2 linked regions of the Homo sapiens genome follow. The protein of the gene in region 2 purifies or fractionates together with the protein of the main gene of each other region. This does not show direct contact. Each region holds a gene or a part of one and is shown on either strand. Other genes may lie near its edges.

Region 1 (4,530 bases), on a different chromosome or scaffold from region 2:
CCTACGTTCATGTATAAACTCAGTGTGATTCAAATGCAAATTCCAGTAGAAATTTTGTAGGGGATGCTTAAGCTGAAAATGTGGCATTGATGCAGGGCATAAATATAACAGTGGAACAAAGTGTAGAATCTAGAAACAGATCCACTGAATGGCACAGAAATGGCCATCTGAGTCTGTGGGGGAAGGAAAAGACCAGTCAGGAAATGGTGCTGGGTAATTAAACTGATGGGGAAAGTTTTATCACTGTTTCCTGTCACATACCAAAGTAAATTCCTGGTAATTGAAAACCTGACTTTGAAATGCATTACCAAAGTCTTTTGAAGAAAATAACTTATAAACAGTAAAATGACTTCTGTCACAATGGTTATCTCCAGGAAGCGACCCTGGGTGGCTGGCTTCAGGGGTATAAAGGAGATTTTTCACTCATATGGTAGACATGTCACACTACAATTTTGTGTGACAGCATAAATTTTTAAAACCTAAAAGCATAGGAGTATGGCTAATAATTTGTGGTTCAACTATGTAATATAGGAGTGAAAATAAATAAACCCCAGCCTGGCCAATATGGTGAAACCCCGTCTCTACTAAAAACTACAAAAATTAGCTGGGCGTGGTGACACACGCCTGTAATCCCAGCTACTCGGGAGCCTGAGGCACAAGAATGGCTTGAACCTGAGAGGCAGAGGTTGCAGTGAGCCAGGATCATGCCACTGAGCTCCAGCCTGGGCAACAGAGAGAGACTTTGTCTCAAAAAAACAAAAAGAATAAACCAAAGCTATGTGTATCTATATGAATATTCTCACAAAGTTTAGTCAAAAAATGTTACCAAATAGCACCCAGAACAATGTCACTTACACAGCAATTACCAACACACAAAGTAACGGCTGTATTTTGTTGGTAGAGATAGATACATGTAATAGAAGCAAAAGCAGGTGGAAGTGGTAAGTGGCCCATTCAGGGTGTTGTCCCCCTCTAGAAGGGAGATGACATATATATACATATACACATGTGTGTGTGTCCCCCCCCCACATATATATGTATACACAGGCACATACATATATATATAAATAAATATCTAAAGTGCATATGGCAAAATGTTAGGGTTTGGTAAACCTGGGTGGTAGGCTAATGGATGTTCATATTTTTCTTTTTAGTCTTTTGTATGAGTCATTTCATAATATTTTAAAAATTAGGAGCTGTTGATTCTGATGTAGCCATGTCTGCTAGGGTCTCTGTTTTATTGTCATTCTGTTTTAGTTCTGTACCTTCCTAGCAGGTCACCTTATGCCCAGGAAATGGATCTGGGGGTTGGTTTTCTTTGTCCACCCCTACCCCACAGCTTCTCCAAGCTTCCACACACGGTCCCCCGTGGAGCTGCTGCTTAGTAATGAGACAGAGTCCTGGGAGCTGTTGAGGGTCTTTTCACAAAACCTACCAAAATCCCAGCTGCCAAATTGGACCCAACTGGCTTGGCCGGGCCATGTGAATTAGCAGATATCTTCTGTGTCTAAAGAGTTTGGGGCTTCCTCTTACTTTTGTTCCCCGAATCTTAAGAACAGAAGAAGAGCCATTCTCTCAAGATCTTAGAGGTGGGCCAGTGAGTTCAGTCTGTCCAGCCTCTGCGCAGCCTCCTACATCCTTCCCTCTTGGGGCCTTCATCTTTTTGTCTTACAGTCTGAGTATGTTAGCAATATCGTAGTCCCCCTTTATCTATGGTTTCACTCTTTGTGGTTTCAGTTACCAGCAGAAAGCTGTGGTCTGACAATATTAAATGGAAAATTTCAGAAAGAAACTCTTCCTGAGTTTTAAGTTGCATGCCATTCTGAGTAGCGTCTTGCCTGGGATGTGAACGATCCCGTGTGCAGTGGATTCACGCCGTCTGTGTTACCTGCCTGTGCGTCACTTGGTGGCCCTCTCAGCTTTCAGATCCACTGTCTGGTATCACAGTGCGTGTGTTTGAGTCACCCTTACTTTACTTAATCATGGCCCCAAAGTGCAAGAGTGGTGATGCTAGCATATGGTTATAATTGTTCTATTTTATTATTGTTAATCTCGTACTGTGGCTAATTTCTAAATTAAATTTCATCATAGGTATGTAGGTATAGGAAAAAAATAGTGTATATAGGATTCAGTATTACTGCAGTTTCAGACCCACTGGGGGTGTTGGGAAGTTTCCCAGAGGATAAGGGAGGACCACTGCAGGGAGTAAAAGTACGTATTTGACAGAAGTTTCTGGAATTGACAGAATATAGATCCCTGTGGTCAGACCCTACAAGGTATGGGTGGGCACACATCTGCCCTAACTCTGGTGCAGTGGAGGAAGCCCTAGAAGAGGTTTCTGTTGGGGGCCTCTTATCATGGTGTGGATTTCAGGAGCAAATCTCCCGGAATGCTGATTGTGAGAACCGAATTTGAGAGGCATCCCTGGCTTCATCATTTCTGTGAATCAGGGATCTCCCAGCATGATGTTTACGCCTCACTGAAGCTGACTCTGCAAAGCAGCAGAAAGGTTGTTTTTCATTTCGATTTCTTTGCTGTCCGTGGTGGTATTGCCTTAGCCTTAAATGTTTCAGTGTATTACTACTTAAGACTAGGGCTTTTCATTTTCTTGTGAAAGATTTCTTTTAAAAAATTCTAACTTGGGAATTAGTGGTGGGGATGTAATTTCTTTTTCTGCAAAAGTTGGGAAGACACATTTGTGCTGCTATAAAACATATATTTGTGTGCGTTGCAAAGGAAAAATATTCTCCCGAGTTTGTTTTTCTCGATTCTGGGTCCCAACAGAGAATATGTTTTTGTATTCTGTGTTTGCCTATGTTGAGTAAGATTAAAAGTTCATTTTCCAGCCTTGGCTTTTCTGCTGGAGTTTAGAAGTTGGAAACCACAAGGCTGCACAGAGCCCCACAGTCCTCGGCTGTGAACAGGCCCCGCTTTGTGCGTGGCTGTTCACTGTGTCACGGTCTGCAACCAGTGCCAATCGCGACTCGGTAAAGACCACCCCTCGAGCACATGGTTGTTGGGAAACGATTCGGGGTTTATGGAGCCTCAGTGAGGGTGACCCAGGCCCCTAATGTTCGTTTCTCTAGAGAAGGGGAGTGTTTTAGAGGATTTTTTATTTTTTTTTAAATAGAGATGGGGTCTCACTATGTTGCCTGGGTTGGCCTTGAACTCCAGAGCTCAAGCGATCCTCCCTCCTCAGCTTCCCAAGGTGCTAAGATCACAGGCTTGTACCACCATGCCTGGCCTTAGGATTTTTGAATGTAGTGATTATAATGTGGTGTCCATTTTGGCAGAGTTCTGAGAAATCTTGTAAGTACCCAGAGGAGTTTTGGTTGGTGGGTACCTGCCAAAAAGTGAGGGTTGACTGTACCATGTTCCAGACCTTCTTGTCCCCATCCTCCTACCCACTGAATCCATCCATGGCTGAGCAGGGTGCGATTTCCTTTTTAACACCCAGCTTGAGAGTGTGTTCTCGGAAGGCCAGTTCCTGGTATCCTCCCTCGATGATCAAACGTGAGAGTGCCCTGGCTGTGGATCACACTGTCACTGCCCACGGCCAGAGGTCAGAACCCATTTGGAAATATAAATGCTGCCTTACCCAGGATTCAAAGGCCTCCATGAGCTCCCCTAAGACTTTGTAGAGGTTAAGACTGGAATGAAAAGTGTGACTCAGTCTCGCTCAACGCCGAGTGACAGTGTGGGAGAAGTGTGTTGCCACAGCAGCTGATAGAGTTGTCCCCAGGGAGAGCATATGCTAGGAAGTTTCTTCGTCATGAGTGTTTTAAACCCTCTTCTTGTGAAGGTCTTAGAAAGGTCAAAGTAATGTGTTCCTTCTGTGATGAGAGTGATTTTTTTTTTTTTGAAAATTTTTTTTTTGAGACGGAGTCTCGCTCTGTCGCCCAGGCTAGAGTGCAGTGGCGCGATCTTGGCTCACTGCAAGCTCCACCTCCCAGGTTCATCCCATTCTCCTGCCTCAGCCTCCCGAGTAGCCTGGACTACAGGCACCCGCCGCCACGCCTGGCTAAGTTTTTTGTATTTTTAGTAGAGTCAGGGTTTCACCGTGTTAGCCAGGATGGTCTCGATCTCCTGACCTCGTGATCTGCCTGCCTTGGCCTCCCAAAGTGCTGGGATTACAGGCGTGAGCCACCGCGCCCGGCCGAGAGTGATTTTTCTTAGAACACAATGCCAAGACATTGAAAACAGTCTCCCTTCTCAGTCCCTTCTTTAAAATGCCCTCATGTCAAAATTTGGATTTGATTCCTACTCTGTTTCCTTCCTCTATAACCACTCAAGAGGAGTGGGGATCTCAATGTCTTAGGAGAAGAATCTCAGTATCTGAGCCACTAAGCAGCCTGGACCCAGTCTCCCACAGCATCTAGAGGTTTTGCAGGGCAATGCTGGGGGAGGCCTGTCCACTTCCCCTCCTCTCCTCTTCCACCTCCTTTTACCTCCCCTTAACCACCCCTTCTTACCCTTGTGTTCTCTTTGCTCATTCCATCGATCTTCTTTAGAGAGACTCGGGACTGGCTT
Region 2 (5,894 bases):
CTGAAAAGGTTTATACCAACCTTCAAATTTGAACTAGAATACACATCATGCCGTTTATCCAATATACTAGAATTCATTTGGCTAGCTTGTGTGGGCTTCTCTGTTTGCAACTCCTATTACATCAATTGAAATCACTACATTTTCTTGGGATGAAATCACTATCTTGCAACGGGTAGTTTGAATTTAGCTAAAAAGTATAAGCTAACATTGTGTTTATTTGCATAAAAACAAAGAAAACATTTTCATTCTTACCTTTAACGAATGAAATGTTCTAGTTTCCTGATTTAGATTGTTTCTTGTCTCTTGATTGATTTCCCATAAATAGTCCATTTCCTTTATAAGTTTCTCCTGCAAAAGAAGCAAGAAGCTTAGCAATAATGAAGACAGTATAGTAGATTTCATACCCTTATCAATTAAAAAAAAAGGCTGTAATTGAAAGAAACATAAATTAAGTTGGAGTGAAGTGGTCAGATTTTTCCAAGTTAAACACATTTGGTTCTAATAATTTGGATGTGAAAAGTGATAGAAACATAATAGAGAGTTTTAAGGGACCCTTCAGATAATATCATCAATATTCTGAGAAACTGGCTTTCAGATAACCTGACTTTGAAAAGTGTTCTTGGTGCTGGCCACCAGCTCCACAGCTCCATTCTACACGTTTGAACAATGTTTCTAAGGAAACCTCCTTTAGCGAAGTCTCAACACAGCTATGATTAGAGTGCCAAATTAGCCAGCAACATTGAAAGGACACATTTATGTGTTATGATTGACATGGAATAATCACCACCTCCACCATCTGCATTCTCATCACCATCATTATCACAGGCCCTCATCATTCTTATTTGGGATTCTGTATAATTCAAACTGCCTTAGAGGCATCACGTACCCTGCATTCCTCAGCAGCCCATCCTATTGGGCTGTGGCTGTGAGCCATGTGCTCTGGTGACTCAGAGCAGGGCCCACAGAGCAATCTCTTGTCAGCCTCACAGAAGAGCTCCTTAGTCTCCTCATGGAGCACACAGATATTGTCTGAGCTGTTGATGTTCTGAGGTCTGGTCTGTCTGGCTAGGGAAGACAGCTTTTTGAGTACCACATTGGTGTTGAAGTTGGGCTTCTCTGAGATTTTTCTGCACGAAGGGCAGCGCATTGGTGCTCTGCCTTCTTCTGAGCAGAGGCAGAGGCAGGGCCTGCAAAAGCTGTGCCCACAGTCAATGGTGACCGGATCTATGAAGTAGTTCACGCAAATGCAGCAAATGAGCTCATTCTGGAAGACTTGCAGGTCGTCTGAATCCATGTTTCTGGAAATTAAAAAAAAAAAAAAGTGAGAATTTCTTTCTCTTATTTTTATTTACCCCGATGAAAAGGAAAGAAAGGCCGGTGGACAATTTTCCTTGTCTACTTGAGCTCTGTCCAGCATGTCTAATAAGTTAGCTCCAGCACAAACTGAGACATAGTAAATTCATACATGCTGGATTTATAAAGTTTTCCCTCAATAGCCATCGAAGATTCGGTCAAGGACTCCCTGAGAACCAAGATCCTAAGATGTTCAAGTCTCTTATTAGTAAATGGTGTGAATTTGTATGTAACCTAAACCTATCCTCCTGAATACTTTATGTCTAGATTACTTTGAATGCCTAATACAATGTAAATGCTGTATAAATACTTGTAATGCCATACTGTTTAGGAACAGCAAGAAGATTAAAAATATGTACATGTTTGGCAGGGCGCGGTACTCATGCCTGTAATCCCAGCACTTCGGGAGGCCGAGGCGGGCAGGTCACGAGGTCAGGAGATCGAGACCATCCTGGCTAACACCGTGAAACCCCGTTTCTACTAAAAATACAAAAAATTAGCAGGGCGTGGTGGCACGTGCCTGTAGTCCCAGCTATTCGGGAGGCTGAGGCAGGAGAATCGCTTGAACCCAGGAGGCGGAGGTTGCAGTGAGCCGAGATCGCACCACTGCACTCCAGCATGGGTAATGGAGTGAGACTCTGTCTCAAGAAAAAAAAAAAAGTACATATTCAGTACAGCTGCTTTTTTCACCCTGTAAATATTTTTTATCTGAGATTAGTTGAATCCACGGGTATGAAACTTATGAATATGAACAACGAACAACTGTGATGCAAATGAGAAAATGAGACAACAGTCCTCATGGCATTTTTGTTAAACAAGCCGTGCTCTCAGTCATTCCCAGTTACCTAGACAAGCTTAAAGCCTGGGTGGAGGGTAAAAGCTGGGATGATTTCTGAGTCACTTATGTAAGCTAATTAACGAAGAAGCACATTCTGAATGTCATCCTGTTTCTGTCATTCTATCTCTCTCAATAATTCCATGATGATAATATATGAAAGACACTTAGTATCTATGGTATTATTCTATACTCCCTGCCTCCAAACTCACCTATGAAGTTTGCTCAGACAATTATAAATAAAGTAGCTTTTATCTAAGATTGAGTAATCACAGTGGACTGTCAACTCCTAAAATTATCAACCATTAAATTTGTCCTTTTAACTTTAATATCAAAACTCTTCCTTTCAATACATTAAATGTAAATAATATCTATTATTTTTAATTAGGAAAGTTTTTTCCCATTGTCAATTCTGATGATTAGAGAGAACACTTTCACATTCTGAAATAGCCAATATTTCAACTATAATTAACAAGAATTAATCAACAACTAATTATCTTCTAAAATAACAAAAAAAAAGTGAAGATATGTATTAGGTTTTCCACTCTACACTAGAAAATCCAGAAATGCAGTTAATGGAAGCATGGCCGCCAATTCACCTTTCGCTTAGTGACTTGGAAGTTGCAGCTTCTTGGGAGCCCTTGCCAGTTGGTTAGATCTATTGATCTATTTTCTTTCTTTCTTTTTCTTTCTTTTTTTTTTTTTTTTTTTGTTGCTGTTGTTGAGATGCAGTCTCACTCTGTTACGCAGGCTGGAGTGCAGTGGCACGATCTCGGCTTACTGCAAGCTCCACCTCCCAGGTTCAAACAATTCTCCTGCCGCAGCCTCCTGAGTAGCTGGTATTACAGGTGCCCACCACCACGCCAGGATGATTTTTTTGGATTTTCAGTAGGGACTAGGTTTCACCATGTTGGCCAGGCTGGTGTCTAACTCTAGACCTCAAGCGATCTGCCTGCCTTGGCCTCTCAAAGTGCTAGGCTGCAAACATGAGCCATCATGCCCAGCCGATTAAATCTATTTTCAACAGCTTTCAAATCTAGTCTGCAAATTGCAAATTTTGAAGAGACAGCAAATAAGACCTTTGCAACAAGAATTTTCAAAGTAATTCAACATTTTTAACGTTCGCTTTGGCTTACGTTATAACCACTACTACATGCCCACATTCTGGTGAACATTTTAGGTATTTTATGGGTTCTATCATTGCATGAAACTATGGAAATATATCTTTTCACACTTAAGAAAAATCTAACAATACAGAAAACAGTCACATAGTCAAATAGCAAGGGAACACAAACCATATCTTACAAATTGAAGATACTTTATATTGATTTTCTGTAAAATCACTAAGACAGTCATTTGTTTGCTTAGAAAAGACCCAAGCATGCTGCCAGGTAAATTTAAAGCATGTTTAAGAGTAAAAGTGAGCATGATGGTTTTGCTGCACACTGTATACTCACAAGGCTACTATGAATGGTCTCAGTCTAGAAACTCTGTAGATATCCAGATTAGAAGTCACTCCTGGCTCTTCAAAGCCCAGCAGCCACAAATCCAGTGGGTCCTCACTGAAGGAGAGAGAAATCTCTGGACAAGCATCCTTTTAAAGTGTATGGGCCCACGAAAGACCACACCCACTTCCTGAGGTTGATTAGATTGCGTAGAAAGGGGTAAATTGGCTGATTAGGTTTATAAAGTATTGAAAACCAGACTTGAGGGCTCAAAGCTCAACAGACAAGTTTGGAATGAGATGCAAGAAAGTTGACTTAACACTGTTTATTCAAAGAAATATTTTAAGTGTAACAATTATTTCACTACATATTATCACATGCTTTTTTTTTTTTTTTTTTTTTTTTTTGAGACGGTATCTCGCTCTGTCGCCAAGGCTGGAGTGCAATGGCTCGGTCTCAGCTCACTGCAACCTCTGCCTCTGGAGTTCAAGCGATTCTCCTGCCTCAGCCTCCCAAGTAGCTGGGATTACAGTCGCCCGCCACTACCCCCAACTAATTTTTGTATTTTTAGTAGAGACGGGGTTTCACCATGTTGCTCAGGCTGGTCTCAAACTCCTGATGTCAGGTAATCTGCCCACCTCGGCCTCCCAAAGTGCTGGGATTACAAGCGTGAGCCACTGCACCGGGCCACATGCTAACTTTAAAATTTTGTTTCTCACTCTGTTTTAAAATTATAATTGCTTAAGTGCCTAGCCGTTATTTGTCTGAATATGTTCAAAGATAAAACATTAACTGGGATTACCAACATATCTGTGCTGTGTCACTCTCTTGTTTAAAAAAGTATAACAAGGAACTCAATTGTGTTTCACAAAATTGTATATATAATGGTTGATATAATTAGCTGTATCGGCCTGTTTAACTTATTTTTACTATTTTATGACTATTTCCTAATGATGGATTTATATGAAAATAAAATCTGTTTTTTATTTATCCACCCTTTTCAATAATTTTAAAACTGAAACTTTACATATATATGTACATAACTATCTATAACAATGTTACGTATTCATATTTTTAAAATTATATAATAATTATTTACACAATAATAATAATTATTGTTACTTTTTTTTTGACATGCAGTCTCCCTCTGTCACCCAGGCTGGAGTGCAATGGCACGATCTCGGCTCACTGCAACCTCTGCCTCCCAGGTTCAAGTGATTCTCCTGCCTCAGCCTCCCGAGTAGCTGGGATTACAGGTGTCTGCCACCGTGACCGGCTGATTTTGGTATTTTTAGTAGAGATAATGTTTCACCAAGTTGGCCAGGCTGGTCTCGAACTCCTGACCTCAGGTGATCCGCCCATCTTGGCCTCCCGAAGTGCTGGGATTACAGGCATGAGCCATGGCACCTGGCTGCTATTTATACAATAATTATGTGCATAATTATCTTTAATGGTGCCTGAAAGTTATTTTTAACATGGTTGCCATACTAACCGATTTTGTTGTCGTTTACCATGATTTAATAAATCACCAATGTTTATACATAGTTGTATTCATAAATTATCTAATGTTTGGGGAGTTAGGTCATTTCTGTAAACTTAAAATTAACAAACCTTGCTAGAAGTTGAAAAAGTAAAAATCTATATAAAGTCACCATTTGCAGATTAATAGACATTTAAAAAATTATAAAATTCATAAAAGCCAGCATATCCTAGAAAAAGATGAAGTGGCTGTCTTTTTAATCAGTCCATGGCATTGCAAATTAGTATGTTTTCTGAAGTGTCATTTGATCAGCATTATGCTTCAAAAAATATATCCAATAAAGATAAGAAAAGGTAATCATAGATATATATATATATGCAGACTTTTCCACAAACGTTATTCTTTGAAAACAGATTCAAACACTTCTTAAAATGTTGCATATTATCTACTAAGTGTAGAGAAGAAAGACTTTCTGGTATTCTCACTTCTCAGTAAAAATTCAATTCTACATTTTGTAGACTGCCCCGTATTAGACAGAAACAAACAATAAGCAACTTATGAGATGCATATAAAAGAATAAAAAATAGTTGCAAATTTTAGTGCTGGAAGCTGAAAAAGTTATTATCTATTTTACTACAACTGTGTTATCATGCAGGATAGGTAAGAGAGAAAAAGTAGTATTTCCTTACCTAACTAAAAAATACTCTGTCATTCAAGTGAAAATATCAGACATTTATTGATTACCAATTCTATGCTAAAAACTGTTCTAAGTGCTTCACAT

What was found. Proteins that work in one complex are often made in the same cells at the same time.
Region 1: the proteins of TRIM64 (region 2) and RRBP1 purify together in Homo sapiens (affinity purification with mass spectrometry, with the first as the bait; one large-scale study listed by BioGRID). This does not show direct contact.

The regions. Positions count from the first base shown.
Region 1 is NC_000020.11:17,661,609-17,666,138, reverse strand, and holds part of RRBP1 (ribosome-binding protein 1), read left to right. Parts: intron 1-4,530. UniProt on the Homo sapiens protein: Acts as a ribosome receptor and mediates interaction between the ribosome and the endoplasmic reticulum membrane.
Region 2 is NC_000011.10:89,963,904-89,969,797, reverse strand, and holds the start of TRIM64 (tripartite motif-containing protein 64), read right to left. Parts: upstream 3,762-5,894; 5' UTR 3,646-3,761; intron 1,299-3,645; 5' UTR 1,295-1,298; coding exon 887-1,294; intron 349-886; coding exon 253-348; intron 1-252.